Linked DNA regions of Homo sapiens. The protein of the gene in region 1 purifies or fractionates together with the protein of each later gene. This does not show direct contact. Each region holds a gene or a part of one and is shown on either strand. Other genes may lie near its edges.

The links.
Region 2: the proteins of SMAP1 (region 1) and KLHL18 purify together in Homo sapiens (affinity purification with mass spectrometry; 2 studies listed by BioGRID and IntAct, with this or other methods). This does not show direct contact.

What each region holds. Positions count from the first base shown.
Region 1 is NC_000006.12:70,658,746-70,675,366, forward strand, and holds the start of SMAP1 (stromal membrane-associated protein 1), read left to right. Parts: upstream 1-9,137; 5' UTR 9,138-9,278; coding exon 9,279-9,396; intron 9,397-9,784; exon of another isoform or gene 9,785-9,883; coding exon of another isoform or gene 9,884-9,971; intron 9,972-16,621. UniProt on the Homo sapiens protein: GTPase activating protein that acts on ARF6. Plays a role in clathrin-dependent endocytosis. May play a role in erythropoiesis.
Region 2 is NC_000003.12:47,331,232-47,347,191, forward strand, and holds the end of KLHL18 (kelch-like protein 18), read left to right. Parts: intron 1-1,925; coding exon 1,926-2,086; intron 2,087-3,451; coding exon 3,452-3,588; intron 3,589-5,288; coding exon of another isoform or gene 5,289-5,303; coding exon 5,304-5,526; intron 5,527-9,325; coding exon of another isoform or gene 9,326-9,340; coding exon 9,341-9,445; intron 9,446-11,487; coding exon 11,488-11,599; intron 11,600-12,323; coding exon 12,324-12,710; 3' UTR 12,711-15,585; downstream 15,586-15,960. UniProt on the Homo sapiens protein: Substrate-specific adapter of a BCR (BTB-CUL3-RBX1) E3 ubiquitin-protein ligase complex required for mitotic progression and cytokinesis.

The DNA.
Region 1 (16,621 bases):
TTAGAAAAAAAATGCTTAAAAAGTTATGTTTCTTCAATCTGCTTATCAAAGTTAAATGTTTTCACATGCGAGCACCTATATTGAACTTCATTTGCTCATTCATTCAGCAAACATTTATTAAGGGCTTGCCATGTGCATTAGTGGTATAGGCTCTGGAGATCTCTAAGGTGACAGTGAGGGAAGCTGATCCTCACTATAAAATATGGACAATAAACTACTTTAGGAGTGAGGGATCAGGGTATGACTGTTTTATTTACTAAGTTTTATCCCTAGTACCTATCACAGTGCTCGAAGCATAGAAATAACTAAAAAATATATTGTAGTTGTTGTTTTTTGAGACAGAGTCTCACTCTGTCGCCCAGGCTGGAGTGCAGTGGTGCGATCTCGCCTTACTGCAAGCTCCGCCTCCTGGGTTCACACCATTCTCCTGCCTCAGCCTCCTGAGTAGCTGGGACTATAGGCGGCCGCCACCATGCCTGGCTAATTTTTTAAACATTTTTTTAGTAGAGACGGGGTTTCACCGTGTTAGCCAGGATGGTCTCAACCTCCTGACCTTGTGATCCACCTGCCTTGGCCTCCCAAAGTGCTGGGATTACAGGTGTGAACCACCACACCCGGCCAAAAATATATTGTTGAATGGATGACTAGATGAACAGGGAGAGCCGTCAATTTTCCTGTCAAAAGACTGGTGGGGGGCCATGTGTGATGGCTCACGCCTATATTCCCAGCACTTTGGGAGGCCAAGGTGGGTGGATCACCTGAGGTCAGGAGTTTGAGACCAGAATGGCCAACTTGGTGAAACCCCGTCTCTACTAAAAAATATAGAAATTATGCAGGCATGGTGGTGCGCACCTGTAATCCCAGCTACTCAAAGGCTGAGGCAGGACAATTGGTTGAACCCAGGAGGCAGAGATTGCAGTGAGCTGAGATCATGTCATTGCACTCCATCCTGGGCGACAAGAGTGAAACCCTGTCTCAAAAAAAAAAAAAAAAAAAAAGGCTGGTGGGGTCAGGACTGTGGAGGATAATAAGAAGGGCAGTTCAGGAAAATTTTCTGAGTTGTTTAATTCTGCTTCAACAAAATGCTTCAAAGAATGGTTAGAGTTCCCATAGCCAAACTTGAGGCCTAGATACCCCTCTAATGGTTCCATCAGGCATCTGCCTTCAAATATATGTGTAAGTTGGTTTTCCTCTCTCCCTCGCAGGACTGCAGGGGTTGAATATGTTCTTCTGACTCCTTGTATCAAGCTTTTTTTTTGCGACTGGGGATACTAGTTGCCCATATGAGCACTCAAAAAATTTCAGTGTCTCTGTACTGGAGGGTAAAAAGCTGAGAAATTGGGATTTTGGAAATTATATTTTCCTGGCAGTGGGAGGTTGTGTGTAATTACATTTGGAAATGGCGAGTTAATGGGTGCAACACACCAGCATGGCACATGTATACATATGTAAGTAACCTGCACATTGTGCACATGTACCCTAAAACTTAAAGTATAATAATAATAAAATAAAAAAAATTACATTTGGAAATAATTCCAAAGGAAGGTGGGGAAGAATTGTGTGGAAGTAGCAAATTTTCAACAGAGACCTCCCTCTCCCCACACTGAGGAGAGTTCCTTGGTATCTGAGCATAAATTAAAAGAGTACACCAGTTGGGCTAAGTTTTTAGGAATCACAAACACACTAAGGTTCCCTGATGTTAACTTTTTTTTTTTTTTTTTTTTGAGACGGAGTCTCACTCTGTTGCCAGGCTGAAGTGCAGTGGTGTGATCTCGGCTCACTGCAATCTCCACCTCCCGGGTTCACGCCATTCTCCTCCCTCAGCCTCCTGAGTAGCTGAGACTACAGGTATGCACCACCATGCCTGGCTAATTTCTGTATTTTTAGTCGAGACGGGGTTTCACCATGTTGGCCAGGATTGTCTCAATCTCTTGACCTCATAATCCACCCACCTCGGCCTCCCAAAGTGCTGGGATTACAGGTGTGAGTCACTGCGCCCGGCCCCCTGATGTAACTTTTAAAGGCAAAACAAACAAAAAATCTAGGGTCTTTCCTGGGTTTCCTCTTTTTGTGGGTGTGTATATGATGTTTGTTTACCTATCTCCATAATAAATGTTCCTCTTTCCTCAATACATATGTGTTCCTCTTGACTCAATACACTTGATCTCTCTTTAACTCTTGTTATTGATGGGTCTAAATTGTTCTACTCTGTTTTCCATCTCAAGGGACAGCATAGCTTATAAAAAACCAGGGCCTCAGTGCCAACAAGACATAACCTCGAAAGCCAGTTTTGCTACTTAATATCTAGGCTTTCAACCAAGATACTTGATTGATAACCAAGATATCGATAACTTTCAACCAAGTACTTAACATCTCTGGGCCACAGTTTCTGTGCTGTTCAGTGATATTTCGGTTTCTCCTTCTAGGTAAATGGTAGGATTGCACTTCTGGTTCCCTTGACATTAGGAGGGTTCATGCATTTGCTTTGGCCAATGGCTTAAAAGTGGAAGTGGATATGTATTATTCCTGGGGAGAGACCTTTAAAAGTCATCTTCCTGCCTTTTCCCTGAAAAGTGATAGAGACTTTATCAGCCTGGTACCAGAGTGACGACAACATAGGGTAGAATCCCTATGAGCCCAATGCTCATGTAGCATGACCAAGAAGAAAATTCTATTGTCTGAAGCCATTACGATTTTGAAGTTATTTGTTATCTCAACATGAAATACCTCATCCTGGCTGATGTTTCCTGATGTGAAAAATAGTATAATAAGATTGATTACATTATTCCACAGTGGGAGATTAAAAAACACTGGTTCTTATTACTATTATGCTCATCCTCCCAGTTGTCTATACCTACTGCTCTTACCAGTTGTTCCACCTACACCCGCATATTTGGCTCATTCTTGTCCATTTCACTTGACCTAAATTTTTTCCTTCATTTTCCTACTCCATCACTTTCCCTCTTTACTTATATCCTCTGTTGAATCCTGGTTCCATTGTAGTCAAACTCCCTAAACCTGTTTCTCATCTTTTTCGTCTGACCAGAAACAAAAAATTAGAGTCAAAAGTGACCTCATCTCTCTAAGAATCTGCAAAAACAGACCCTTCAACTTCACTCCCCATCCAGCAAGCATCCATAGACACCTTGACTTCCAGGAGTTCATCAGGACAAGTTACTACACCCCTCTGAGAGGTGTCACTAGGCACTTCTCTTCATTTAGCTGTCCGCATCCTTTTCCTAACCATACCACATCACCTCTGGCCTCAAAGAAACCTATAATCATTGCTTGCTCCTACTTCACTTCTCACACACACTTTGGACACTTTCCTTACTTTACACTCAATAGTTAACTCTAGCACTGCTTCCTATCCTTGTACCTTTTTTCTTTTTTCCCTTCTAACCGTCCCCATCCCTCCCTCAATATTTCATGGAACCCTCCAGACAATCACAGGCTTTGGAAGTCTCATCAGATGATTTATCTTCTCTTGTTCTTGAGCTATGAAAGAAAACAATGAACTGTGCAGACCCATGACCACATGCTGTATGTACTGTCTAAAATGGAAATAATTGACTTTTCTGGAATAGTTGGCATTGGTTGGTGTTCACCCTTTCTTCTTCAAAACTGTTCCTTCCCTGGCTTCTGGTTCTCCACTGTTTTCAATGGTTCACCTTTCTCTGTCCACTCTTCATTTAGTAGGCAATCCCCAGAATTTTGTCTTTAGGTCTCTCCTCTCCTTTGTCTATGTGCTTTCTCCGGGGGAATGTCATCCATCTTTACAGCTTCTATGACCCTTTAAATGCAAATAATTCCCAAATGACTTTTACCAGCAGTAACTCCTCTCCAGAGTTCTAGAAGTCAATATACAATATCTCATTAGACACATGAAGCTGGATGTCCTAGGCACATCTTAAACTTAACATGTCCCCAAGCAAATGCTGCTTCTCCCCGACCCCAAATCTGGACTATCTCTTTTGTTCTTTCTTGTTTTTTCAGTGTCCTCTTTTTACTGTTTTGCAGAAGAATGCCCAACATACAACATGATTGCAAATATTTGGCTATGCAAAAGAGGAGATAGTGCTCAAATACAAATGGGAGACATGACTTTTTAAAAAATAAATATTTGCCAGGCATGGTGGCTCACATCTGTAATCCCAGCACTTTGGGAAGCTGAGGCGGGTGGATCACCTGAGGTCAGGAGTTCGAGACCAACCTGGCCGACATAGTGAAACCCCATCTCTACTAAAAATACAAAAAATTAGCTGGGTATGGAGGCAGGTGCCTGTAATCCCAGCTACTAGGGAGGCTGAAGCAGGAGAATCGCTCGAACCTGGGAGGCAGAGGTTGCAGTAAACCAAGATTGTGCCGTTGCACTCCAGCCTGGGCAACAAGAGTGAAACTCCATCTCAAAAAAATAAAAACTAAAATAAATAAATACAAAATAAATAAATAAATATTTAAACACAACTTGGGTTCTACAAGTGCCTGGACTACAGGTCTGTTTGAAGGAGCTGCCTTGTTTGTTGACCCATGGTGATGTCATAATTATCGCCAGTAATCAATGCGTGGATTCAGGGTGCCAATGGTTGAATATGATCATGGTGAACCCCTTTTCTAAAGCCTTCTCTAGTCCTCTACAGAGGTACTATGGCCAGGACCAAGAAAATGAAATTTCTCAAAGGTCAGTGGTCCATAACAGTTAAGTATGCTACATGATTCTCTTGGTTTTCATTTCTAGTGAGGAAACACACTTACTCTTCTTCAATTCCACATACAGGACAGGCCTAAAAGCTCCTCCCATATCTCTGAGAACATTAGACCATGCACTCTTGAAGAAGGCTTTCCCTTTTCCTCCTTAAAAATCTTCCTCCAGCAATTGAGGGTTCCCATGTGCAGTATGTTGGCTCCTTTGGGTCTGCACAGGGCCCAATGGGTAGAAGGTCATGTTGGCCGCACCACCACAGTCTGGGCAATCATCTGGCTCACCATGATGTGGTGGTCTTGGAGTCAGGGAGCATGCCTTAGGCCTTCAGGCTGCCCAGAAAAGGATGATGCCCTGCACAGAGATGCTGAAGCCCTGGTACAGGCCCCAGATCCCATCAGACTTACTTATCTTCACCAGACAGTCTCCTAGGTCTTTGAACCTGAATCCCAGCTCTGTGTACGATTTCCCAACATTGACCACCAGATGGGTTCTGGCAAAACCCAGCAAGTACACAAAACAGAGACAGGTGGCTCTGGCCGCCTTGTTGGAGGCCAGATTGTGGGCAAAACAGCTCTAGAACTGTGTGTGTTCATCCATACTCCCAGGAATAGCTGTGTCTGCTTATCCTTGAATGTGATGTTGAGGGCTTGCTTAAGAAAGTAGTCCACAATTCCTGTGCACTGCTGTCAGCTGTCACCTGCTTCCTAGCGCCTTGCATCTGCTACAGCAGCTTCACCTGCTCAATCAGGGCCACAACTATCTTGGCGACAGCAGCAGCAATGCCACCAGCCAGATGGTCCTTGGCAAAGGAGATCGCCTGTTGTGTCATGGTTGCAGAGCAGGAAGCTGAGCACATGGAGAACTGGGAGGATTAGTGCTGCTGGCTCAGCCCTGTGACTGCTGGACCTAGAGGCCTACCTCTTCTATTCTTGATCTGGGTTAACGGCATTACCATTTACCTTTCTCCCAACTTAGAAAGCTTGATGTTATTCTCACCTTCTTTCTCTTGCCCTCCACATACAGTCAGCTGCCAAATCTTGCTGCTTCTAATTTTAAACCATCATTTGATTCTGTCTCTCCCAAACCCTACGCTACTTGCTTAAAATAGGCCTTCATCATATCTTCTTTGGACTATTATTGAGACAGGCCTGTAATCTGTTCCCTTGATAAGTTTTTCCCCACCATGTTCTCCATACTGCCACTGTATGGAGAGTTACTGAGAAGAAAGCTTATCAAGCCATTTTTCCGTGTAAAAGCTTCTATTGGTTCTATAAACCCATGAGGTTCAAACTCTGTTGCTTGGCTACAAAGCTCTTAACCCTCTGGTGGCAATCTACCTCTCCATCTTGTTTCCTTTCCTACCTTCATGTTCTCCAAACACATTCTAGGTTTCTTGGGCCTCATATCCTCACTATGTCTAGCATATAACCCTGAACTTTCAGAAGTCCATACGTGTTTTTTAAAGCAATTCCTTTCTCTCCGCTCCACCCCCATTCACTTGAAAAATTCCCCCATCTGTTAAAAGCCAAGTTTAAGCATCACCTCCTCCGTGAAACTTTCCCAGATTTTCCCAGGCTACTGGATGTTCTGTTCCTTTTGCTCCGAGAACACTTTATAATTGCTATAAACTTTACAGTGTAGTCCTTTTCTATTTACATATTTGTAGCTCATAGTAGACTGTAAGCTTCTGATTATTAGTGTACTAGATAGAAGTTGTTTGATAAATACTGGTGAATAAATGCAATGTTGTTTTCTTCCCAGGATGTTTTGGGGACCAGTCTCTTTCTTCCTACTATAGTCTTAAAATACAATCAACTCAAATTTATATTTTAATAGCCTCTAAGCTGACCATCTAGAACCACACTATTCAATAATGTATCCACTAGTCACATGTGGCTGCTGAACATTTGAAATTCATCTACTCCAGGCTGGGCGCAGTGCCTCACACCTGTAATCCCAGCACTTTGGGAGGCCAAGGTGGGAGGATAGCTTGAGGCTAGGAGTTCAAGACCATGCTGGCCCACATAGTGAGACCCCATGGACCAGCAGGGTCTCGAACTCCTAGGCTCAATTTTTTGATAATTTCTTTATTAAAAAATAAATTCAGCCACTCCAAAATGAAATGAGCTGTGTTATACAGCATTTTGAAGAGAATATGAAAACAAGAATGGAAAGAAAATATGCCATGTTTTATATTACATCTCAAAAATATTTTGGATACATTGAGTTAAATCAAATGTATTAGTAAAATGTATTTTATGTTTCTTTTTCTGTTTTTAAATGTGGCTACTGCATTATTTAAAGTTATACGTGTGGCACGCAAGTATTTGTACTGGACATTGCTGTGACCCTTCAATCCATCCTGAAGGTTGTTTTTTGGTGGTAAACCTGTATTCTGTTTTTCTGAGTCCTCACAGTGCTGAACAGAATTTTTGTAGGGAGGAGAGGTACTCAAAAAATGGTGTTTGTTTACTGGTTACTGCAGGACTAACTTTCCCAAAAGATCCTTTTTATTATGCTATTATCCTACTTGAAGAATCTACAGGTTTTCTTTTTCTTTTTTTGGGGGGGGGGTGGGTGGGGAAGGAGTTTTGCTCTTGTTGCCCAGGCTGGAGTGCAATGGCCTGATCTCCGCTCACTGCAACCTCTGCCTCCCGGGTTCAAGCGATTCTCCTGCCTCAGTCTCCTGAGTAGCTGGGATTAAACAGGCATGCGCCACTACACCCGGCTAATTTTGTATTATCAGTAGAGACAGGGTTTCTCCATGTTGGTCAGGATGGTCTCGAACTCCCCACCTCAGGTGATCCGCCTGCCTCGGCCTCCCAAAGTGCTGGGATTACAGGCGTGAGCCACTGTGCCTGGCAAAAATCTACAGGTTTTCTACTGTCAATTTGCATCAAGGCCAGACTACTTTGTCTGGCTTCCCAAGTCTTCCATAACCCTATCATAGTTTACTTATGCAGCCTTATCTCAAAAGTAGTACCTTTTGTTCCAGTCTGTTTTCCAAGGTACTTCAGGTCTTCATGCTTTTGTGCAAGCTGCTCTTTCTTAATATCTCCCTCCCCAGTCCCCATCTAAATCCAGCGTATCTTCAGGACAAGGCTCGTAAGTTCTACCTCCCACATAATGTTTTTTTCTGTTCATTGGAACTCACCAATATCTCCCTAGTAGTTATTTGTCAGAGCTATGTAGTATAAGCTCTAATTTGTTTAATTACTGAGCATCTTCATTGCCATATCCATTCAATTTAATTCCAGAAACATTTTTGAGCCCCTGTGCCAAGAACAGGGCTAGGTAGCAATGAGGGTCACTTTTATGCAGGGACAGGGGCTAGAAATTGGCCTTACTAAGAAGTGTAAGACCGACTCTTGCTCATTGCCTTTCTTAGCATCTGCTTCATCGCAGGCAAGGACTGTGTTTATTTGGCTTGCATAAGCCCCATATTAGAACTTCCTCATAATATACAACATGCCAAATCATCGAAACTGCGTCACCCGGAGTTCAAACTTCATGAGCCTGGATTAGGGTCTGGGTTCCAATGAAAAGTGTTTTCTTTAGTTCTCTTTCTCTTGCATTAAGGATCACTATTTACACAGCTTCTTGTTAAAGTATCACCGCCTAGTACTTGGGTTCCTGGTCACACTTTCCCCCTTATGGAAGGGCTTACTGCCAGGTCTTTCAGACTCTGGAGCCAGACTGCTTTGGATTTAAATCTCAACTCCTCCACTAGTAGTTCTGTAATCTGGTCAGGTTACTTAACTCCTCTATGCCTCACTTTCCTCCCCTGTGTAATGAGGATAACAATATCATAAGGTTGGGGAAAGGGTTAAATGAGCTAACAGTTCGTTTAACAGAGTAATCACTCAATGAAATGTTATCCCCTAATACATGTCACTACTAGATTATTTCTCGCCCTTAAAATGTAAGAGACCGTTTTTCCTCTTTTCTTCCATCCGTGTCTCCAGCTTCTAAACTGCAGGCGAATAAACCTCGAATGAGTAAATGAACCCACCCAGTCGCTAGTTATTTCTGCATTTCCAATGTTGTGCCAGCAAGAGCAAAGGCAAATGGGCAAGTCAAAGTAGGCTTCTTGTAAAAGGTCTTCCATTACTGGGTTTTACTAGAGGCCCTTGCGGACCATCACATCTCAAAAGGGGGGAAAGCTCGTATGAGGCAGTGCCAGCTACCTTTCGGGAATCACCTTGGGCAGAAGGCCTTTTTGCAAAAAGACTCGGCAGCCCGGGCCCCGTAGGTTCGGCGCATGCGCAGCGCGCTCGGCGCCCGGGTTCCTTCCTCCGCGCCACCCGGAAGCCTCGGCGCGACCCAGTCCCCCTCCCCCTCCCCTCGCCGGCTAGGGTGGTGCGTGCCGGCAGGCCGGTCAAGGAGGCGGGACACGTCGGCGCTACCACCGCCACCGCCGCCGCCGCCCCTCCTCCCGTTCCAGCTGCCGCTGCCGCTTCCTGGGCTGAGTCCGCCCGCGGTCCCGGCGGCGCCAGGTGCGTTCACTCTGCCCGGCTCCAGCCAGCGTCCGCCGCCGCCGTAGCTGCCCCAGGCTCCCCGCCCCGCTGCCGAGATGGCGACGCGCTCCTGTCGGGAGAAGGCTCAGAAGCTGAACGAGCAGCACCAGCTCATCCTATCCAAGCTTCTGAGGGAGGAGGACAACAAGTACTGCGCCGACTGCGAGGCCAAAGGTAGCTTGGACGTCGTCGCTGCCCACGGTCGGGGCCTCTTGCGACCGGTGACCTTCCCGCCGCTGCGGCGCTCGGGGCCCGAGCGGACGCCTCGGCTTCGCTGGCCGGCTCCTGCCCTGACTGGAGGGCGGGTGGCTGAGCGGGCGGGCGCGGGGCTCCTGTCGACCCTCAAGTCCGCCAGAGGCGGCGGCGAGGTCAGGCCCGCAGGCCCTGTCAGTGGCCCCAGCCTCCCCTCCTCCCAGACACGGGTTTGAGCAGGTGCCAGGGTAGCGATGCTCGGACCCTCCACAGGGCTGGGGGTAGGAGCGAGGCTGGGAGCGCGGAACCGGGCACGGGTCTGGGCAGAGCTTAGGGTTAGAGAGTTGCCCTCCTAGCTCTGCTCATAGCTATCTCTGTGGGTGGGGCCGCGCTTAGGTCTGGATCCCCTCCTCTACCCTCCGGTGTGACCACGTCCTCCCACTCCGGGCTCGGATTCTTGGTCTCCTAGATGGAGCCCTACCTGCCTGCCCACCTGACAGCTTTTGTACAAGGCTTTTATCTCTGCTTCCTGAAAAAGAGTATGGTGGTCTTTTTCGGTGGGTTTGAGTTTTACGGAATAAATTAATTGGAGAAAGGTCTTTATTAGTAGTAGTATTGTTTTTTAGTCTGGTTATTAGCCAGAATGAAGAGGAATTTCATTACATGAGTCTCTTGGAGGACGGTGGGTTTGTATTTCTGAAGATTTTAGTAATTAGGTTTTCTCTGACCAGCTAGTTTGGGAGAATATGTGGACACTGATTTGTGTACCTCATAAATGCTGAAGGTTCATTTTAAAGATCTAGAGATGGAAAAAACCTAATTTTAGTTTTTTCGGTTGGAGGGCTTCTGCCTCAGCCTTTGAAACAGATATACTATTTTTAGCTGCTATGTTTTGTGTTTGGAGATCTGATTTATGTTTAATGTCTTGTAAGTAATCTCAAGGGAAATATTTCTTTTTTTTTTAAAGAAATGTCTTGTGTAGTTAAGAAAAGATCGTGTATATTTTTAATTGGTTTATTTCGTTATTGGGTGAGAAATAGGGTAGTTCTCTAAAGCAGGAGACAGTCTCTTTGGGGAATGTCCTTTAAGATTTCTGTGTTATTTGACTTAGACTTTTCCTGAAGCTTTACTGTTCTATCTCAATACTATATAAATGAGTCACATTTCAGTAGGCTGATAATATTTGACTAGACTGAGCCACACAGCATCAGCAGGTTACTTCACTGTCGTAACAGGTACTGAATTACTAGAAGAATCATGCGGGAATACTGTAACTAGATTATTTTTATGAAGCACTTTTCAATATAGTAACTTGATTGAGTCAAGATTATATTTATCCTATGTAACCTTTTCAGGTGATGAGTTTTTACAAAGTCCGTGCCTGGTTCTTGTAATACTTGTTTTCCTAGTAACTTGATTGTGTGTGGTTATTTGGGAGTTCTGCACTGTGTTTAGGCTCAGTTGCTTGCTCATTGACTGCACTAGCAAAACACTGAAAAATGGTCCTTTAAAAGGCCAAGAAGAAGAAAGAAGCTGAAGCTAAATAGTACACATTTTGTCATTTTGAGTAATAACATGGTTAAGTAGAGATGCTGGTAAATATTAAATCTGTTCATTAAAAGTCGAATAGTAACAGTTTCAGAATTAACCTTCCTTCATCTACAGACTTTATTAAAAATAATTTAATTTTTGTTCAAATTTCTGTCTCCAAAAAAGTACTTTATAAAATCAGATTTTCACTAATGCTTTCTAAAATAATACAGATTTTTAAAAGCCATTATTAACCATGTTAACTTTTTTTTTTTTTATTTACTCTTTTGAGGTGGGGAGAAGAGAATCATGTACTTCTTAAATTAGGATCAAAAGTTTTACTTCTTTGGACCTGAAGAATAGGAAGTATTCGTTTTGCTCAGTGTTTGTATTGCCACGGAAATCAGTAGATATATATTGAATGAATGTCTTTTGTATTTTGGTTTTGTCTGGCCTTTTGTTGGTTTACTTGTTTTGAGAAGTGAAGGAAGTGGGAGAGAAGAGAATGGTATCAAGAGTACAAGGGTGCAGCTTGAAGGGCATGAACTCCACAGTATAATTTACAAGGATTATTTTTTTCTTGTTGCTACTAAATCTAGAAGAATATTAAAATGATCTTGTAAATAATTTCATTGTTTTATCTTGATCTTTCAGGCAAAAAATCACAGGTAAGGCCACTTATTGATTTAATTAGACTTGATTTCATGGTTGTAATAATTGAAAAATTCGACATGATAGAGCAATTGATGTAAATATATTTTCACAGTTTTTGAGTATTTGGTAAGGTTGAAGTACATTATGGAGGCTTTTTTAGTAGAATTCTTGGCTTGTTACATGATTTTGGATCTATATGCTAGGATGACATAATAAATATAGTACTTTTAAAAGATATGTTAAAGGTCTTACTCTACAGCTCAGTTACTAAGAAGTTTCATTCTGTGTATGTATTGATGTTTTCTTCACTGTCTAGTAAATTGCATCAAACTTTTCATGTACTGTATTTCAAAGTTATTTCCTAGTTAACTCAATTTTCTTTCTTTCAAAGAAGCTTCTTCCACTGATCTTTGAGAATATGTACCAAAACTAAAGCTTAGGATTTGAGGTGCCTGTATTATCTTGCCTTATCATAGTTGGTAGAGGTATGTCAATTGGGTTTTGACATTTTCTTACTGAATCACCAGCTGTGTTTCCTGGATTGACAGTATTTAGGAAGCAACGAAGGAGAAAAGGATGGCATAGGCGCCAGTTTCCTGCTCTTGATCCTGCTCTTACCAAATCTGTTGAACAACTGGAGAATTTAAGAACAGGCAGATGGAACTACTCCTCCTCTCTCCTAGCTGCATTCATGACTCAGTGGGAGTTTAAAGCAGCTCTTGTTGGTTATTAGTTGGTGGCACTTTAGGGAGCAGTGAGGACTGGGAATGCCTTGCCAGCTTCAAGTTTAGTTTTCAGTATTTAAAGTGTTATCTACAGGTAATTCTAGCTTTGATTTTTGTTTTTTTTTTTCACTTCTCTATTCTTTCACATGCTCTGAATAGGGCATCTTGTGTTGGACATCAGGAGTAGCCTGAACTTGGCTGAGTAGGGCTCCTAGAAAACATCGCTGGGCTTGGCAGGTACCACATTGACATGTCCCATGCTTGTTAATGTATATTTCTGAGATTTTAAAAGTGCATTCAAGACCAGCCTGGCCAACATAGTGAAACCCCGTCTCCACTAAAAATACAAAAACCATTAGCCAGGCATGGTGGCAGGCACCTGTAATCCCTACGTGGGAGGCGGAGGCAAGAGAATTGCTTGAACCTGGGAGGCGGAGAGGCGGAGGTTGCAGTGAGCCGAGATCGCGCCACTGTACTCCAGCCTGGGTGACAGAACAAGACTCCGTCTCAGGGAAAAACAAAAACAAAAACAAAACATATAGATAAAATTCACATTGAGCGGTTTCTTCCCACTATCCCCTCTCCCCAGCCCTTGGCAGACACTATTGCATGTTCTATCTCTGTAGGTTTGGCTGTTCTGGATATTTAATATAATACAACATATGAACTTTTGTTTCTGACTTTGACTTCATATGTTTTCAAAGTTCATTCATTTTGTAGCATGTGTCGGTACCTCACTCCTTTTATGGCTGAATAATATTCCATTGTATGGATAGACCACAATTTATCCGTCTATTGATGAACATTTGGTCTGTTTCCATCTTTTGCTAGGTTTGATTTTGAGCATGTTTAAATTGGTATGAAAGTGAGTCTCTTGCCCATTCAATTTTGGGTAGTCAGAAACATAAGGTTTTTTAACTCTAGAGATTGTTTTGTTTAGCCTGTCTGATATTGAGAGGGTAAGCTCATTGCTGAGATCAAACACTCGTTTCTTTGTTCCGCAGATCTTGACTTGAAGACACACTGTTAGATATTGTATTAGGTAAGAGAGCTAAAAAAATTTGTAAGACCTAAAGGAGTTTGTTTAGTGTGGGTTGTGTTTTTGCAAATAAATGATTCTAAAACGATGTGCTAAGTGCTTGTAATAATGGTTTTAAGAAATAACTACCTCTATACTTATTTTGGGCTGTTGTTCCCCTTGCACCTTGACTTTTGCCCATTGGTGGTCTTTACAGTTCCTAGAATGCTGTTTCAAGACCTTTGCACGTGCTGTTCTTCTGCCTGGGAAGCTTTCTAACAAGTTTTTGCCTGCTCAGCTTTTGCTCATCTTTCAATTCCTGCTTAAATGTCTTTTCAAGGGAAATAATTCTCCTTGATCCTCTGAGATTAGGTTAGGCTTCCGTTTATACATAAAAGACAACACCCTGAATCTTTTATTGCACTTATCACAATTGTAATTAAACATTATTTAGGTAATTATGGGGTACACTGTATCCCTGCTGGATTATAGCTGTAAGAGAGGAGACCTTGTTTATCTTGGTTAGGGTAGTATCCCCAGTTTTCAGGACATGTGGTAGGCAAATGTAACTTAGCAAATATTTTTTGAATGAATGAATGTGTGAATGAATGAGCACAGAGCCCCTGGCAGGCAGCAGGGTGTGTGAAAGGGAGTGCACCTGTGAAAGGGAGTGGCATGTGGAGTGACCCTGTTGGGACCAGTCACAGAAGGAGTCTTCATTTGAGCTAGGTTCTGAAGGTGGAGTGGGATTTCATCAGATAGAGAAGGAATTAAAGGACACAGCTGCACACACACATGTACCAGTATGAAAGAACAGAAGAAGTTTCCATACGGCCCTTACTAGATAAGCTTTCTTTAAGCATGATCAGTTTTGGTAGTCTCAGGTCAGAGGAAGAACTGGGATAGTGAGGATTGCAGGCAAATCCTGAGTTAGGAGATGTTGAACAGTGGTCCAAGAAGAGGGCAAGAGGACCTAAATTCACACAATGTCAATATATAAGTCAGGGTATAGAGCAGGAAAGAGATCCACTGTAGCTATTTTCAGGAATCAGGTACTTACCAAGTCATTGGAAGGGCTGGAGGAGGGAAAGTCAGGGAGCCACTGCTGAACTGCTTTCAAGGCCACACATACCACCACTGCTACCGCTGCCCCACTGTCATAACTGCTTCTCACCCAGGAGACTGGTATGCTGATGGGGGCATAAGGCCTATGGAGCTGCAACCACTTAGTGTCTGTAGACGTTTTTTGTTAGTTGCCCTTTCTGTAGGAATGTGGCCTCTGTCCCACTTGTGCTTTCCATGTGCAGATAATTGGCAGATCCTAATTATGTCCAATACCTTGCCTTCAAGGGAGTCTTTTAGCTTTCTAACTTTTTCAAAAAGTAGAAACGTGTAGAGCCCATTTGATTGCAAGAGCCAATCCAAGAGTTCATGTTTTTCATTAAGTCTTTGATATTTTAGAGTTGTTACTTTTAAAGTGTAGTAATATTTACTAAAAAGTAAAGTTCACCTTGGGGAACTGGTGTTTATTATGATGTTGATGCTTATAGGACAAATTTATATAAGTGAAAGTCTGATTATAATTCACCTAAAGAAATTTGCCAATCTAAAAGTTTCCTCAAAATGTGAAACTTCAGTCTGATGGGTCTGTTGTTCTTGTAATTCTGCTGATCTCGAGGTTTTTCCTGATTGGGCAGAGCCCTGGTATCAGAGCTGAGATGGAAATCATTGGTCTCTGACTCATCAGTTTAAAACTTGGGCTGCATGTTGTCTCCCCTCCTTTTGTTCTTCACAGTTCTTCTTTGTCTTTTTTGTTTGTTTGTTTGTTTGTTTAAGATAAAACTTTCAGTACTTGACTTCATTAATTAAGGAGGCTTACATCTCCTAAATTGTTGCTGTACAAGATATATATATATATCTTTCTCCACCTTTATTAACCTATAACAGACTTGAATCCATGCTCTCTTTAAGGCAAAGTAGAATGTTTAAAACGATATACTTTATAAACTCAAAAAAGTGCTTTGGCATTTTTTTTTTCTTTTTTTTTCTTTTTGGTACAGGGTCTCACTCTGTCGCTGGGCTGGAGTGCGATGTAGGCTCTCTGCAACCTCTCCCTCCTTGGTTCAAGCAATCCTCCCACCTCAGCCTCTCAAGTAGCTGGGGCTACAGATGTGTGCGACCATGCCTACCTAATTTTTGTATTTTTTGTAGAGACCACGTTTCGTCATGTTGCCCAGGCTAGTCTTGAACTCCTGGGTTCGAGTGATCTGCCTCCCTCAGTCTCCCAAAGTGCTGTGATTACAGGTGTGAGCCACCACACCCAGCCCCTTTTGCTTATTTCAAACGCTTCTACTAATCGTCTTTTCACGGATTAGAATTAAGCCATTTTAGTTCAGTTTCTCAATTTTCTCAATGAAAGAAGATCAAAGAAACTTGGAGGCCATTTTGTAGTTATTATCAGAAGAGTTGACCGCCTTACATTCTTACCACTGTAAAGAGTTGATTTAACAGACATTTAATTTTGTTGATAAATCAATATTTTCTGGGCACTAAAAAGATTAAGTACTACGTTAGATACTACTGTGTGTGTTAAAAAAGTTTTGGATGCCGGGTGCAGTGGTTCATGCCTGTAATTTCAGCACTTTGGGAGGCTGAGGCAGGTGGATCATCTGAGGCCAGGAGTTTGAGGCCACCCCTGGCCAACATGGCAAAACCCTGTCTCCACTAAAAATACTAAAATTAGCCAGGTGCAGTGGCACATGCCTGTAGTCCCAGCTACTCGGGAGACTGAGGCAGGAGAATTGCTTGAACCCTGGAGGCGGAGGTTGCAGTGAGCCGAGATGGCGCCACTGCACTCCATCCAGCCTGGGCGACAGAGTGGGACTCCATCTCAAAAAAACAAAAACAAAAAGTTTTGGATATAGTTGTCTACAAGCTAGTTAGAGATCTCAGTAGACATGAAACAATTACCAGTTAACTTCTAATCTATGTTTACATTGGTAGATTCATTAGAAGTTTAGAGATAGGGTAGCTCCATTGTGACCTGGAGAATGTTAAAAAAAAAAAAAAAGCAAATAATAACATTACATATATACTCACAAATTATATAGTGTTTTTTTTTTTTTTTTTTTTTTTTTTACCAGAGATGATGTACTTCACACTTTACATATACTAACTCATATAATCTTCAAAACAACCTTTGAGGTAGGTAATATTATTACCCAGGTACACAGAACTTAAAGTAGTGGAGCCAGAAATTTTTTCATTAAAAAAATTTTAG
Region 2 (15,960 bases), on another chromosome or scaffold:
TTCTCCTGCTTCAGCCTCCCAAGTAGCTGGGATTACAGGTGCCCGCTACCATGCCTGGCTAATTTTTATATTTTTAGTAGAGATGGGGTTTCACCACGTTGGCCAGGCTGGTCTTGAACTCTGGCCTCACATGATCCTCTCACCTTGGCCTCCCAAAGTGCTGGGATTATAAGCATGAGCCATCATGCCAGGCCTTTTTTTTTTTTTTTTTTTTTTTGTGAGACAGAGTCTCACTCTGTCACCCAGGCTGGAGTGCGATGGCACAATCTCAGCTCACTGCAGCCTCAGCCTCCCAGGTTCAAGCATTTCTCCTGCCTCAGCTTCCCAAGTAGCTGGGATTACAGGTGTGCGCCATCATGCCTGGCTAACTTTTGTATTTTTAGTAGAGACGGGGTTTCACTATGTTGGCCAGGCTGTTCTCGAACTCCTGACCTCAGATGATCTGCCCACCTCGGCCTCCCAAAGTGCTGGGATTACAGGCGTGAGCCACTGCGCCAGGCCCGACCTTTTTTTTTTTTTTTTAAAGTGAGAGAAATTACAGCATATTTGACTGCTGTTGGGAGTTTTCCAGAAGAGAGGGAAGAATTGATAATATTGGAGAAATGGGAGAGCAGTTGTTGGAATGATGTTCTGGAATAAGTGAGGACAGTCTAGGGCATAAGGGTGTGCATCTTTGATAGGAGCACAAGCCATCCATATCCACAGTAGCAGGAGGGAGAGCTGGGGCACACGCCCAGGGACGGGGGACAGGTAGATTCTTACTGAAATTCTCTTCTGATTTTCTATTTTCTCACCTGAGAGTGAGGATGAGGGACGAAGGTTAGAAACTTAAGGAAGGCCGGGAGCAGTGGCTCACGCCTGTAATCCCAGCACTTTGGGAGGCCAAGGTGGGCAGATTTGTTGAGCTCAGGAGTTTGAGACCAGCCTGGGCAACATGGCAAAACCCCATCTCTACTAAAAGCACAGAAGTTAGCCAGGCCTGGTCCAGCTTAAACTCCTGGCCTGTAATCCCAGCTACTTGGGCTGAGGTGGGAGGATTGCTTGAGCTGGGAGGCAGAGGTTGAGGTGAGCTGAGATTGCGCCACTGCACTCCAGCCTGGGCGATGGGGCAAGACCCTATCTCCAAAAAAAAAGAAAGAAAGAAAGAAAAGAAAAAAGAAATTTGAGGAGGGATTAAAAGGTATGATTTATTTTCCTCTTTCCTCTAGAAAAGGGGGATGCTAGAGAGGTGAAGCGGGCTTGATAGGAGCCTGGGAGAAAAGTGGATCCTGGGCTTGGCAGCATAGACACTGTGGTTTCGAGGAAAAAGCCTCATTCCAAAAACTAGGTGTCCTGTCCCTAGCTCTTAAACTAATTAATATGACGGGGGGCGGGGGGGCAGCTCACATTTCTTTGAGTGATACATTTCATAAGGGCTGTAGGGCTTTAGAGGGAGAGGTCCTTGTGGTTGGAGCCATTAAGAAAGGCTCCTTGGAGAACATGGATCTAGAGCCAGGCCTTAAAAATAGGGGAGTGGGTTTAGATGAAGAGGAGGAGATGAGGGCATTTTAGATGAGGGGGGACAGTGTAAACAGGAGAACCAGCCCAGCCTTGCCGGAGTACAGAGAGGGTGATGGAGGGAGTTTAGAGGGAGCAGGGGTACAGGAGCAGCGGGAAGGGAAACAGGCATTTTGTTTTCACAGAAAGTAATAAGATGCCATTGATGATTTTTCACTAGGAAATCATAATCATAATGAAATTCAGGAAGCTGTTCTAGTAGCCTAGGAAGTAGAGAGAAATCAGGGATTTCAGAGACAAGTAGGAGAAAAGATTGATGGGCCCAAGGGACTGCTTCAGTATAGGAAGTGGAGGCATTGAGATTGGAGGCCTGGGGTGTGGCCTCTGGGTGGGAGGATTTGCTGCCAGAACATCCACTCTCATGACAGGTCTTTGAAGCTGCATTGGCCTGGGTCAGATACGACCGGGAGCAGAGGGGTCCCTACCTGCCTGAGCTGCTGTCCAATATCCGCCTGCCCCTCTGTCGGCCCCAGTTCCTTTCAGACAGAGTACAGCAGGATGACCTGGTGCGTTGCTGCCACAAATGCAGGTGAGTGAGGGTGGACCTGCACAGGACACTGCCAAAGGTCTAAGCAGGGAAGAGGAGTTGGCCACCTGTTCCAGTTCTGGAAAGAAAGCATTTAGAGTGATCAGTCTAATTCATGGCACACAGATTGGTCTGCCCTCTGTCTAGAAGCTGGAACAGGAAGTGTGAAGAGCCCGAATCTTATGCCTTGGGCAGAGAGATGTGCCATGTGGGAGCATCAAAGCAGAAAGGGCTTTCCCCTGCTGAGTTATCTGAGGATTTTCCAGCATCTTTCCCCACTGAGCTATTTATGAATGTGCAACCATCTTTACTGCCTGCTCTGACCCTGTCCACACCAGCAGCTCACTCAGTGGCGCAAATGGGACTTCCTGGGGCTCATTGCCCTCTTCAGTAAATATTAGTCAGTGCTGTGGGCATGGAGGGCCTCTGCCAGGTGTAGGCTTTACATCTACGATGATGGGCAAGGGGCAGACATGTTTACCAACACATGAAACTTTTACCCAGAGCAAATCAATGACAACATGGTACAGCAGAGTTACCCAAACAGTTCAGAAGATGGCAGCCCTATAGGATGATTGCTGTAAAAGTAGAACAGCAGAGAAAAATGTTCATTCTCCTCCAGATTGCTTATCAAATTCACAACCCTGAAATATTTTTTTCTCCTTTGCTGATAAAAACTTTACACACATTCAGCTTTCTTTCATTTTCCAACTCCTGGTTGGGATCAGCTGGTTCAGGAGGAAGTAAGTGCCTGTCCATGGCAGATGGTGTGAAGGTGTGTGTCAGGATGGGGTGGAGTAGTGTCTGGAGGTAGCTAGGGCCCAGTGACCAGCGGTCTCAAGGGTGCTGTTGAGGAGTTTGGACTTTATTCTGTCGGCAGTGGGTGGCTATTGAAGGTTCTTAGCTTGAACTCTAGTGTGGAAGTGGAATGGAGGGGCAGGCCTGAGGCAGGGAAATGTGTCAGGAGCTGCCACCGTGGAGATGAGTGGTGATTAATTGCAGGTTGCAAGCCACGGTGCAGTCGTAGGGATGGAAAGGAAGGGCTAGGTCTGAGTGGCAACAGGGTGCATGCTGCTTGTCGAAACTCCCAGGTCCAGCCATTTTGGCCACTACCTTGTTTTTCTCATGCCTAATCTACACTAGCTGAGGTGGTCTTTGCTTGTCTTGCCCCTTTAATTTTGAGTATATCTCAGTAGCCATGTATGATTTTCCCAGAACTCACCTGGTTTCTTTGAGACCAGACCTTCCAGAAGGCTTCTCCTCCCAGGTTTCCCCTGCAGTTGGCAGTGGAGAGCCAGGCTCAGAGATGCAAACGAGGACTAAGTCAGGGGGATACCTCCTGTTCTAGCATCTTCCACCTTATTCTAGGGACCTGGTAGACGAAGCAAAGGACTACCACCTCATGCCAGAGCGCCGGCCCCACCTGCCAGCTTTCAGAACCCGGCCACGCTGCTGCACATCCATCGCTGGACTTATCTACGCTGTAGGGGGCCTCAACTCAGCAGGTACCTTGCGGCTCCCCTTTATAGACCCTCCTCTTGGACTCCATGGATGAGGAAGCACCAGACAAATTAGCCTGGCCCTTCTGGTTTCTCTGTTTTGTACTGTCACCACCCTTGCCCCTCTTGATTTTATACAATTGCTCTACAGTTAGAGCATGTCACATATTCATGCCATTGAATCAGAATATCAGTGCTAAAGAGACCTTCTAGAAATCTTTGAGGCCTAGCCTTCTTACCTGACAAGTGAGGAAATTGAGCCCCACAGAACTTTCACTATGTTCATACAATTGTTTTTGGCAGAGCAAGGACTAGAACTTGGGTGTTCTGATTCCTGAGCCAGCACTTTTGCCCTAATATCACATTGGCTATGGTATAGCATCCTTCAGCCCCGGATAGGATACAGTCAGAGACCCAGTTCCATACCAGGCTATTCACATTTTGTCATATGGATCTCTGGGGTTAGACTGAGAAAGTCCCCAAGAGAAAGATTATCCAAATACACAGGGTCTACCACTGTCAATAATACTTTTTACTCTTCAGCCCCACCCCCTGTGAAACACACACATGCTTTACAGTCCGTGGGTTATTGGCAGTTTTTGAATCTAAGAGTAAGGTTTTCAGAAAGCTGCATGGCCTCCCAACTTGGGGGCAGTTGGTGGGCACTCCCAGGCAGTTTTGTTTTTATTTTTTATTGTTTTTAATTTTTTTGAGATGGAGTGTCACTCTTGTCACTCAGGCTGGAGTGCAGTGGCGCAATCTCAGCTCACTGCAACCTCTGCCTCCCGGGTTCAAGCAATTCTCCCGCCTTAGCCTCCTGAGTAGCTGAGACTACAAGCTCATGCTACCACGCCCAGCTAATTTTTCTATTTTTAGTAGAGATGGGGTTTCACCATGTTGGCCAGGCTGGTTTTGAGTTCCTGACCTCAAGTGATCTGCCCACCTTGGCCTCCCAAAGTGCTGGGATTACAGGTGTGAGCCACCGCACCTGGCCCAGTTTTGTTTTTAATTGAAGGTTAATGAGAGTTGGGTACTAGCTGCTGCTTGTTAATCAGAGGGCCTGGAACAGGTAAATCCTCAACTCAGTGCACGCTGGAGCGGCGTGCAAATGAAATGCTAAGTGCCCCATAGCAGCATACCACAGGAAGAGGGGGTTATTTTGTTTGATCATCACAAAAACCTGATGAAAAAGGTAGGGCTGGAATGATCATTCCTTGCTACTATGACTATTTATTGAGCGCAAAGTTTATTCTAGAACCATGCTAGGTGCTTTACCTGTTATATCATTTAATCCATAAAGATTATCTCCATTTCACATGTGAAGCAGAGGGTGGGGACACAAAGCCCCTTGCCTTGGGTCACCCCCTAGCAAATGAAAGCACTGGAGCGCATGCCCGTCCCTCTGGCATGCCTCCTGCCTGGAGGAAATATTGTATCGATTCACCTATACCTTTGGCTTTAAGCAGGTGGAGTACCTGATTGTAACTGAAAACTACCCTCTCTAAAAAATAAATACCTCCTGTCTGATTCTGATTTTCCTTAAAGAATTAGGTTTGAGGTGATCATGGCTGAAATTTCTTAGTGGGCCCTTGTGCCTTGAGTAATTCTGTGGGAAGAGCTAATAGAATTGAGTCGAATGTTCCATATAATCAATGCCCAATAGCTGTGCTCTAAACAAGTGGTCTCATTTGTTTTAATTTGAGTAGCAAATTTTTATGCAGGTGATTCCCTGAATGTGGTGGAAGTGTTCGACCCCATTGCCAATTGCTGGGAGAGATGCCGTCCCATGACAACAGCCCGCAGCCGCGTTGGCGTGGCTGTGGTGAACGGGCTTCTCTATGCCATCGGAGGATATGACGGCCAGCTACGGCTGAGCACTGTGGAGGCCTACAACCCGGAGACAGACACATGGACCAGAGTGGGGAGCATGAATAGCAAGAGAAGGTATTCTGGAAGCCACGTGCAGCCCGAACATACACACTGAGCACCTGGGGAGCGCCATGCTAGACGAGCAGGGGCACACAGTAGAGTAAAATACAAGCTTTGGCCTGGGAGTTTCCTGCAGCCAGGCCAGCCACTGCCAGTACCTCCTGGGAGCGAGCCCCCATCTGCTTAAAAGTAAAATATCCACCTTGTCCTTTGGGGAACTTGGGGAGACCAGGCATGGACATGTGGAAGTTGTGTTGTTATTTTAAGTGCCAGATAAGGACTGGAAATGTGTATTATGGAAGATTCGAAGAGGGAGAGAAACTGGACTGGAACTTCTGGAAGATTTCAGGGAAGAGGTGGGATTAAAGTTGAAACTTGAAGAATAAGGAGGATTTACCTTTATTAGTGATAAAAGGAAATCCAAGGTGTTTTTCTGTGTACCTTCCTTCCCCAGGACTCCCCTCACACATGCACTTCCACTACCTGGGGAGAATACGAACCAAAGCAATGTTCTTTTATTTAGGTCACACACATTCTCCCAGACAGGAGCACATAGGTATTTGCAAGGTGGGCCAAGTTGATATGTCACTCAGTACATTCTAGCTACCTGCTCTCTCCACTTCTCTGCTTATATTGTCTGAATAAGAAGTGGGATTAGAAGACATCCCAGTGCCTTTGTTTAGCCCTTCTTACTGCTGAGGTGACAGGTGGCATGTTTCATTATGTCAGACACGTGATGGAGTCATCACATGTGTGGGCAGCTGAAAAGCTGGCGCAGCCCAAGGAGGGGAGAGGAAAGCTGCCCAGAGCCCCCTGGCCGTTACCCAGGACAGCTCTGCACTGATTGCTTTTACACATTGAGCTTCCTTGATATATGCCTAATGTTGTTCCACATCCAGCAGCGTTTGCATGTGGATGTGAGCTGGGAGGGATCTGCCTTTGTACTGGTGAGACCAGTTCACAAAGCATCGGAGTAGGTTCCTTTGGGAAGAAAAAAATACGTAAGATCTGCCCCTCCCAAGAACGCATTGAGAGTCCTTTCCTCCCACCATCCCCACTTTTGCTCCTTGGATACTTTGCAGCTTCCTATGTTTGAGTGACTCATTGCTCCGTGTCCCCAACCATGAGTAGCTTTTTTGCTTTGACTGCAGTCAGCTGTCCTTCCTTGTGTGTCTGCTCTGGACCACTTCCTTGCTTTGATGTTACTGGGTTTAGAGGGCTGTCTTGGAGGAAAGTTCTCTGGGTATTCCTTTCCTTCACTGTGGTTAATATCCTGTTATTAGTGTGGGCCCGGTTCCATTACATCCCTTTTAAATTACAGGCTACCTTAAAACGTTCCTAGTCACTTCTCTTCTGACATCCCACACAGCTGTCTGTTCTGCCAGTTAGTGACATCCTGCCATCTTTCCTTCCTATCTCCCCCAGTGTTCTACGCCATCCCATAGACCTTTCTTACACTGGACTATTCCAGTCCATGCTGATCAGCATTTTCTCCTTCTCTTCACACTCGCCTTTACCACCTAGTTGATAGTTAATCTCATGCAGTTTTGGGGCACCTCTTAATTCATTTTCATATTGTTCAACACCTGTTTTGTTATGTAATTTTTATGTTTGTTTTGTGTCCGTATCCAGAAGGATAGTGATCATGTCTAGTAAATTTGTGATCTTCCCACAATACTTGCCTAAGGCAAGTCCCTCTCCTCTTTCTGGCTGGTTCAGGGGGTCAGTTATCATGTCCCTGAAAGGGACATTCTGTGGATCAGTTTGATTACTATGTACATTTAAAAGGTAGCAGCAAGCCAGGTATGGTGGCTCACGCCTATAATCCCAGCACTTTGCGAGGCCAAGGAGGGCGGATCACCTAAGGTCACGAGTTTGAGACCAGCCTGGCCAACATGGTGAAACCCTGTCTTTACTAAAAATACAAAAATTAGCCAGGCATGGTGGCGGGCGCCTGTTATCCCAGCTACTTGGGAGGCTAAGGCAGGGAGAATTGCTTAAACCGGGGAGGCGGGGGTTGCAATGAGCTAAGATCGTGCCACTGCATTCCAGCCTGGTTGACAGAGTGAGACTCCGTCTCAAAAAAAAGAAAAGGTAGCATTAAGCCTGGTATGTTTTATTTTCCTGTTTGTTAGAAACCTAGATTCATTTTTAATCTTCACCAGCATCACATTTGAAAATAGTGAATTGGGCAGCTTGGCATTTGTGCTGAATTCCTTATAAGGCGTTGTGTAGGAGGGAAGATTACATGATTACACCACCAGACCCCTGGGTCTTTGATATTAGGAGAGCTTGGCATGTAAGGAGTTGGGGAGTTGGGCTTGTCTCATTTAAATCTGAGGCAGGCCTCTCTCTGGGCAGTCTTGAGGAGAGACCTCAGCCTCCCCAAGCTATGGCTGCCTGTCTGTACAGTGATTATGGTGCTCTTTCCTTCCTTGCAGGGTGTGCTAAGGGCTGAAAATAGCAAGTGGGCCATGCACAGTGGCTCACACCTGTAATGCCAGCACTTTGGGAGGCTAAGGCGGGAGGATTGCTGGAGCCCAGGAGTTTAAGACCAGCCTGGGCAACATAGTGAGACCCCCGTCTATACAAAAAAAAAATTAGCCAGGCATAGTGCCATGTGCCTGTAGTCCCAGCTACTGGGGAGTCTGAGGTGGGAGAATCCCTTGAACCCAGGAGGTCAAGACTGCTGTGAACCATCATTGTGCTACTGCACTCCAGCCTGATGATAGAGCAAGACCTCATCTCAAAAAAAAAAAAAAAAAGAAAATAACAAATGTAGAGTACCTAACACATGTAGTAAATGCACAGCAAACAGGAGCTGTGGCATCAGCCACTATGATAAATTAGAGGCCATGCACATGATGAAAACAACATCTGTGAATTGAGTGGGAAAAAGCAGAGGTAACACAACAAACATACATTCAGTGCCTGTTACATACAGGACATCATACTTATCACTGTGAGGGTCACACAGGTGAAGGCCCTTTCCTGTCTTCCAGGAGCTCCTCACTTATTAAGAGGTGGCAGATAGATTGGCTGGGTGTGGTGGCTCACTCTTAACAATCCCAGCACTTTGGGAGGCTGAGACAAGAGGACAGAAGTTTGAGACCAGCCTGGGCAACATAGCAAGACCCTGTCTCAAAAAAAAAAAAATTAGCTGGGTGTGGTGGTGCACACCTGTAATCCCAGCTACTTGGGAGGCTGAAGTGCAGGAAGATCAATTGAGCACAGGAGTTCAAGGCACAGTGAGCTATGATGGTACCACTGCACTCTAGCCTGAGTGACAGAGCAAGGCTCTGATTAAAAATTACACACAGAAGTGGCAGATAGATTCCTGGTAGCCTATAATGTCAGAACATAAGTGCTTTGTGGGCTGGAACTTTGGCTTGCTTACCACTCTAAACCCCAGCTGTTACAGATCTGATGGATGAATGAATGATTGTAACAACTGCTGATTAATAAGCCACTCAGGGAGCGTGGGGGTGGGAAAGAGTAATTCTTACAAAGGGGAGGAAGAGGAGAGTGGAAGTTGAGTTGGGCCTTCAAGGTAAATTCGACCTTCACATGGTGAGGTGGAAGGTAAGCATTTTAGAAAGATTAAGGACAGAGAAGAGCAGGGAGGGGAGGCAGCCTGCGGTAGAAGGGTGGGGCACAAGAGGAATGATGGGGCAGCTTCTGTCACCTCAGTTTTATGCCTTTACTTAGTCACATACCTTAGATTTACGTTGCAGAAAGAGGCAATTGATAGGTTTGTTTCTCAGTGGGCAAGAGAGGCTGCTCCAGGAAGGCTGCGGCTCATCTGGGATGACAGCTCTGTCTGTTTCAGTGCCATGGGGACAGTCGTGCTGGATGGGCAGATCTACGTCTGTGGGGGCTACGATGGCAACTCTTCCCTCAGCTCCGTGGAGACCTACTCACCTGAGACGGACAAGTAAGGACTCCAGCTCCCTTGGGGCAACTGGAGCTTATAAACAGAGAGTATAAAAATCAGAACTGTAGTTTTTTTAATTTAAGCTTCTCAAGGGTAGAGAATGTCTTACCTTTTTGCCCGTATAGTACTTTGTATATACTAGATATTTAATAACCCTTGGTTAAGTGAAAGAATGAGTAAATAAAATTTTAAAACAAATAGTCTACATAGTTGCTTGGAAATACTTATTTAATGGTCTGTACCTCTTAGCTAAATCAGCCCATTTTAATGGAAATACAGGCAAGAGGGAATAAGAAGTAGATGAACAGCATGTTCCAAAGTGGGTAGGATATGATTTGGAAAAAAAAAAATGTTTTTAAGTTCTGTGGTCAGATAGGCTTGGGAAATGTTGATGTCTGAACTGCCAGAGTCCTTGTCTTTCCATAAGATATATTAACATTTTAAAGACTCTAAGAAACCCTGCAGTAAATAACTCTGTTTAACCTCGGGTTTTATATACACAACAGTCACCATCTTGTGGGACTCATTTGTGGAACACTCTTTGAAAAACATTGACAAGGTTAGCCCGAGTTTTTCATTTCAGTATTTGAATCCTCTCATCTTATATAATAAAATATAAACAAATTAGTTGAATGGACTTATTAGGATGCCTTTAAGCCAGTATTCTGTTCACTTGACCAATCTACTGTGGATCAGACAGCAAGCTGGGTGTCTGAGATCCTTTAAAGCATCCAATGTGGTTGGGCCATGGGTTGCATCATGATCATCCTACCCTGGAGGCCTGTGTCAGAAGCTCTTGGGCACAGAGCAGAGAGAACCTTCATCTTCCCCAGGGTTGCAGGAAGGGACAGGGTAGCAGGGATGTCTTCCAAGGTGAGACCTGTCATGGATAGCCAATGGGAGGTGTTTGCTCATCATAGGGAGACAACAAGGAGTGAGGCTGCAATAAGAAAGTGTTCACTGTAATCGAGAACAGCAATGATCCTCTCATGGGCTAGAGCACAGCGTGTGGATGGGAGACGGAGCAGGGTGGGTGGCATGTGGTGTGGGGTGAAGCTGAAGGGTGGTTGAGGACCAAGAGGTGAAGAACCACATGAAGGGCTGGGCACAGTGGCTCACGCCTGTAATCCTAACACTTTGGGAGGCCAAGGCAGGAAGGTAACTTGAGCCTAGGAGTTTGAGACCAGCCTAGGCAACATAAGAGAGACCCTGTCTCTTTTAAAAAAAAAAAAAAAAAAAAAGGAGAGAGAGAAAAAAACATTAGCCAGGCATGGTGGCATAAGCCTCTAGTCCCAGCTACTGAGAAGGCTGAGGCAGGAAGATTGCTTGATTCTGGGAGGTCAGAACTGCATTGAGCTATGATAGCACCACTGCATTCCAGCCTGGGTGACAGAGTGAGACCCTGTCTCAAAAATAAAAAAAAATTAAAAACCACATGAAGGAACCTGGATTCTCTTAGAGGAGACAGTGAGGAGCCACTGGACGGACATGGTGCAGGTACAGGAGGAGCAATCCCTCTGGCTGGGTGGGGTCGGATGGGACTGGTAGGAAAGCCAGGCTGCCTGTAAAGAGGCTGTTGCAGTGGTCCAGATGAGAGGTCAGGGGTAGGGCACTGGTAGTGGGGATGGGAGCAAGCACTGACTAGGAAGCAAACCAGCCAGGACTTGGGGGACCACAGGAATGTTGATGGTGAGGGAGAAGCAGCCAGAATAGCACTGAGCTTTATAAGTACAGCAGCTAGAGGGCTGGTGGTCTGCTTAACAAGGCAGGGAGTGCAGGGAGGAGCAGAACTGTAGGAGAAAGAGGTCTTGTATGAGACAATGATTTTGAGCAGCCATGGAGATGAGCAGAGAAGATGGGCTGTGGGTTTGCAGCTTGGGTGAGAGGCGGCAGCCAGGGAGAACTGTCAGAGAGGTGGTGGGAGAGGTGATAAGAGATGGAGAGATGGCCAGCACAGTTCACCTAAACCCTGCTAGGCTGTCTTGAGGGAACAAGAACCCTGAATCTCATGCTTCCCCTCCTATTTTGACTCTTTCCTGAAGATGGACAGTGGTGACCTCGATGAGCTCGAATCGCAGTGCTGCTGGGGTTACAGTCTTTGAGGGCAGGATATATGTGTCAGGCGGCCATGATGGTTTGCAGATCTTCAGCAGTGTGAGTCTGGGCTCCCCCTGGGATAAGGGTACCTACTTCTGTCTTTGAGATTTATTTTAGAAGATCATTATTTGAAAAAACTTCAGCCTTGCCACAGCTGAATAAAGTATCATCTAGTGAGGTTTCAGGCTATCCACTGCACCTTCTGAAATTCTGAACTTCCAGAGAATGAGCCAGTGTACACAAAAGAAGGGCAAAGGGTAGTCACATCTGCAGCCACCACCCTGTTCTACTGTCTGTTGAACACTACATAGAACTTGTGAGATTCCTGCCCAAAGTAAGTTCAGTTATAGACCAAGTGTAAATTTGCAAACAGTTGTATTCTTTTGGATAATTTGTTTGAAATTGTATTTATTCTGTAAAAAAGGCTCAACAGCCATTTACTAGTCATTCCATAGTCAGTCAGTGCTGCAGTGGAGAGCCCTGGAGATTACAGGAGACCCAGCTCTCATACAGGTTCTGTCACTACCTAGCATTGCATCCTTGGGCACATCCTTTTTGTTTCCTTAGATGCAAACAGAAAGGGTTAGGTGAGGTGACCTCTCCCTGTCCCCATACACCAAAGAGCAGGCCTGCAGCAGAGGGAATACTGGGAGAGCTCCTTGTCCCCATACCTCCCACAGGAGTTTGACATCATGGGGGGCTGCTGTGCCCTGCACGGTCACTCCATGGACTGAGCTTTGCCTCTGACTGTCCTGTACCTGTGCCTCTCTCCCCACTGCAGGTGGAACACTACAACCACCACACAGCCACCTGGCACCCTGCAGCTGGCATGCTCAACAAGCGCTGCCGGCACGGAGCCGCCTCCCTGGGGAGCAAGATGTTTGTCTGCGGGGGCTACGATGGCTCTGGCTTCCTCAGCATTGCCGAGATGTACAGCTCTGTGGCAGACCAGTGGTGCCTGATTGTCCCCATGCACACGCGCAGGAGCCGGGTCTCCCTGGTGGCCAGCTGTGGGCGCCTCTACGCTGTTGGGGGCTACGACGGACAGTCAAACCTAAGCTCAGTGGAGATGTATGACCCAGAGACAGACTGCTGGACATTCATGGCCCCCATGGCGTGCCATGAGGGAGGGGTCGGTGTGGGCTGCATCCCTCTCCTCACCATCTAAGGCAGAGGATGGGATGTGGTGGGGCAGGGATCTGGTACAGACATAGGCGCTTCCTTCCAGGAACAGTCCCTCAGGAGAGGCAGTGGACCAGAAGAGATGGCGAAACGTGAGCTCGCCGGAGGTACAGTTTTTCCAGGTGCTTAAGCCCTCCCCCACTGTGCCACCCTTGTGACCTTCAGGCTTGGGTCATCAAGATGCACAGCATGGAACACAAGCTCCTCTGGATCCTGCAGCTGGTGACATGGAACTGTTTTCTGGTCCACATGAACACAGGCTCCATCCAGGCCCAGCTCCTACCCACCGCCTCTCTGTGGGCCAGCTGTTCACAGAAGGCCTTCCATCTGATGCTCCCCATCGCCTGCTTGCTCTCCAGCCGAGTCTGGCCAATTTGCCATGGGGAGGCTGCAGTGTCCAAGCCTGCTGGAAACTGGGATGTAGCTGGGGACGAAAGGACAGACCCAAGCGTTCTCCCTGCCTGAGATGGTGTGGCCACAGCAGTGGAAGGCTGCACACAGGCACATTCCTTCTTCCACAGTGGGGCACCAAGGATTCTGTCCTCATTGCTGGGTAAGCAGGGAGAAGAGAAGTTTTCCCCATGTCTAATTTTGGGATTTCAGTGAGGCCTTTTGATCTGTCCAGGAGAACAGAAGGGAAAAAAAGATACTTGAAAGAAACTGAAGGAAATTTAAACAAAGAAACACTTGAAAGAAACTGGAAAGAAAAATAATTTTTTTATGTGAACAAATTTTGCAAGAAGAAAAAAGCATAAAAGACACTAACGGCAAATCTATGTTTAAATGGAAAATCGTCTAACTGGAGAAGGGCGGTATCCACCCCACATTCGGATCCCAGGGTCCTGAGGCCTCGCATTGAGCTGGGGGTTCCCTCTGAGCCCCAGTGTGTGTGGAATCAGTGCACTCTTGACTGGGCCTGTAGTAAGGTGCTCATGGGGTTTGTCTTCTCACCCACCATCAGAGGACTTTTAAAATCATAGGCGTAGAGAGTTAGGCTATCTGCTGAATTACTGCCACTCTTCTTGGTGGGGGCTCCTAGCTGTGGCTGGGGGCTCCAGGCGCCCCTGTGATTACCTCCTACTGCCACCATGGCGCTCATTCAGATTCCCCACTCTCACTAACATTGCTTCCTTTTTTGACCAGCAGGAAACAGCAGGTCTGGCCAGATTCTCACTTGCCCATCAATCTCGTTCTTGGATGATTTCCCTCATTGTGATGCTTCTGGGGCACGTTGACCATATGCACCTCTAGAACCTAACCAGGGCTTCCTTCTACCAGCTGTGGGCGGGCTTGGTCTGGTAACCTTGTCTGCTCTGCCATTCCACTGCTCCTCCATCCACTCGCCAATCCCAAGAGTCTGGCCTCCCTCCAGCCCTGGGCAGACTGACCAGCAAGGTGGACCTTTACATTCAAGCACAGCTGGCTTTTATGACATAAAGAACTAAAGGCCGAAAGAATCTCTTGCTGCTGCAAAGAACAGATTTTATATTTCTTCCTCTAATCTTGGCAAATGACCTTTACCTTTTGGAAAGATTTCATATTGCTTCCTCCTCCCTGGATAGGACCTAATGTAGCACAGCGGGACTCAAAGAGGAGGACATTTTCTCTTGCCAGTGCACTGGGCAGTGGGGCTGTCCTTCAACTGCTGCTGCCAAAATTGGTTTTCTAAAATTCTTCCAGTAGAGACTAAAAGAAGATTCAATTCCTGTAACCCAAGACTGAGTCTTAGGGCTCCAGTCTCCACCTGCTTGGTTTCCTATCCTTTGCTGCCTGCCTGGGGTGGCCTGGAAGCCTGTTCAGAAAGGCACAATGTGGAGCCTGGGGTGTCTCCCCCACCCCAGGACCGTCAGGTTTACCAGTGTGTGCAATCGCCATGTATTCAGAGGGAAGTACCTTTGTTACCTACAACTTAGGAGCTAGGCCTCTGCTACAAGCACTTGAAAATGATATTTTTATTTTTAACGTCTCAACAATCTGATATCGGATGTCGTTTAACCTGGGCTCGTGGTAGGGCTCCAGCATTTCTCCCTCCTTCCTGGTTTGCCTGTAGGGGTAGACTCGGAAGGTGGGTGGGGTGTGCATTTCCTGTTAGGAGTGTATCAGTGCTTGTCTTATTATAAGCCCCTTTCTTTTGTGAATTTGAAGTAGCACCAACAAGCCTGGATTGTGAAGGTATTAAGAATCGGTCTGTGGGCTACTGAGTGGGTCCTTAGGATACTGGCCCAGATTTTGCCACTGGGTATGGCAGATCATTTTCTACCATGGCCTGCTGCTCTTGTAGTGGACTTCCTGAGTCCAATCCCACCTCCTGGTGTAGAATTTACACTGCTGCACCTGAGGTCGATGTTTCAAAGTAAGATCAAGCCAGTGTTTTGATCTGGGCTCTGAGCACAAGTCAGGAAACACCAACATATTCACACTCTCCCAGTAGGTTCCTCAGTCCGATGGTGAATGGCTATTCGTAAATGGCTGGTCTGGCTCTTTGGTGTTGGAGCCTTTCCAATAGCCCCATGAAAAGAAGCATCACCCAAGGATATTGTAAAAAGGATGTAACAAGGAGATAGGGTAGACATTGTACTCAGTGGGCCTTGGGGCCTAGCCCAGCTCTGAGCAGAGGACTGTGGCATTCACTGTCCTTGAGTGTTTCACCTTCTTGGATAACACACGGGCCTTCTCTTCTGGATTTCATCAGAGATTACAGCCAGATGGGGGCTGAAGACCATCCTCTTGACCACAGAGGTGTGACTGTGGGAATTCCTCCCAATTTATGGTTTCCCAGAAAATCTTAGTTCCTTTTATTTATAGAATGCATGTCTTTTGTGTTAAGAAACCAAAGAGAAATAAAGAGAACACTCCTAATAGCTCTTGTCCTTTCTTGGTTTATTTCTCAGATATTAGAAGTACATGTTTGTTTTTTAATTGTGATTCACTGAAAAAAATATATTGGACAAAATGGGAATATTTCTGTGAATATAAGGGAAAAGCCAGATGTACAGCAAAAGTAGTCTTTGGAGAGATTTATTTTATGAGAGTCACTTCTGGTGAAAAATATGCAAAGACTTCATTTGCACTTTGGGACTGCATATTGGTGCCTGTCCTGATCGCCCCTACTCTCGGATTTCCCCTTTTCTCCATTCACTGCCCTAAAACTCCAGAGTTTCCCAGTGGAATGTGGCTGCCTGTTGACTGCCTGGAATCAGCATCTCCAGCTCCTTTTTTATGCTCTAGGCGAGAGG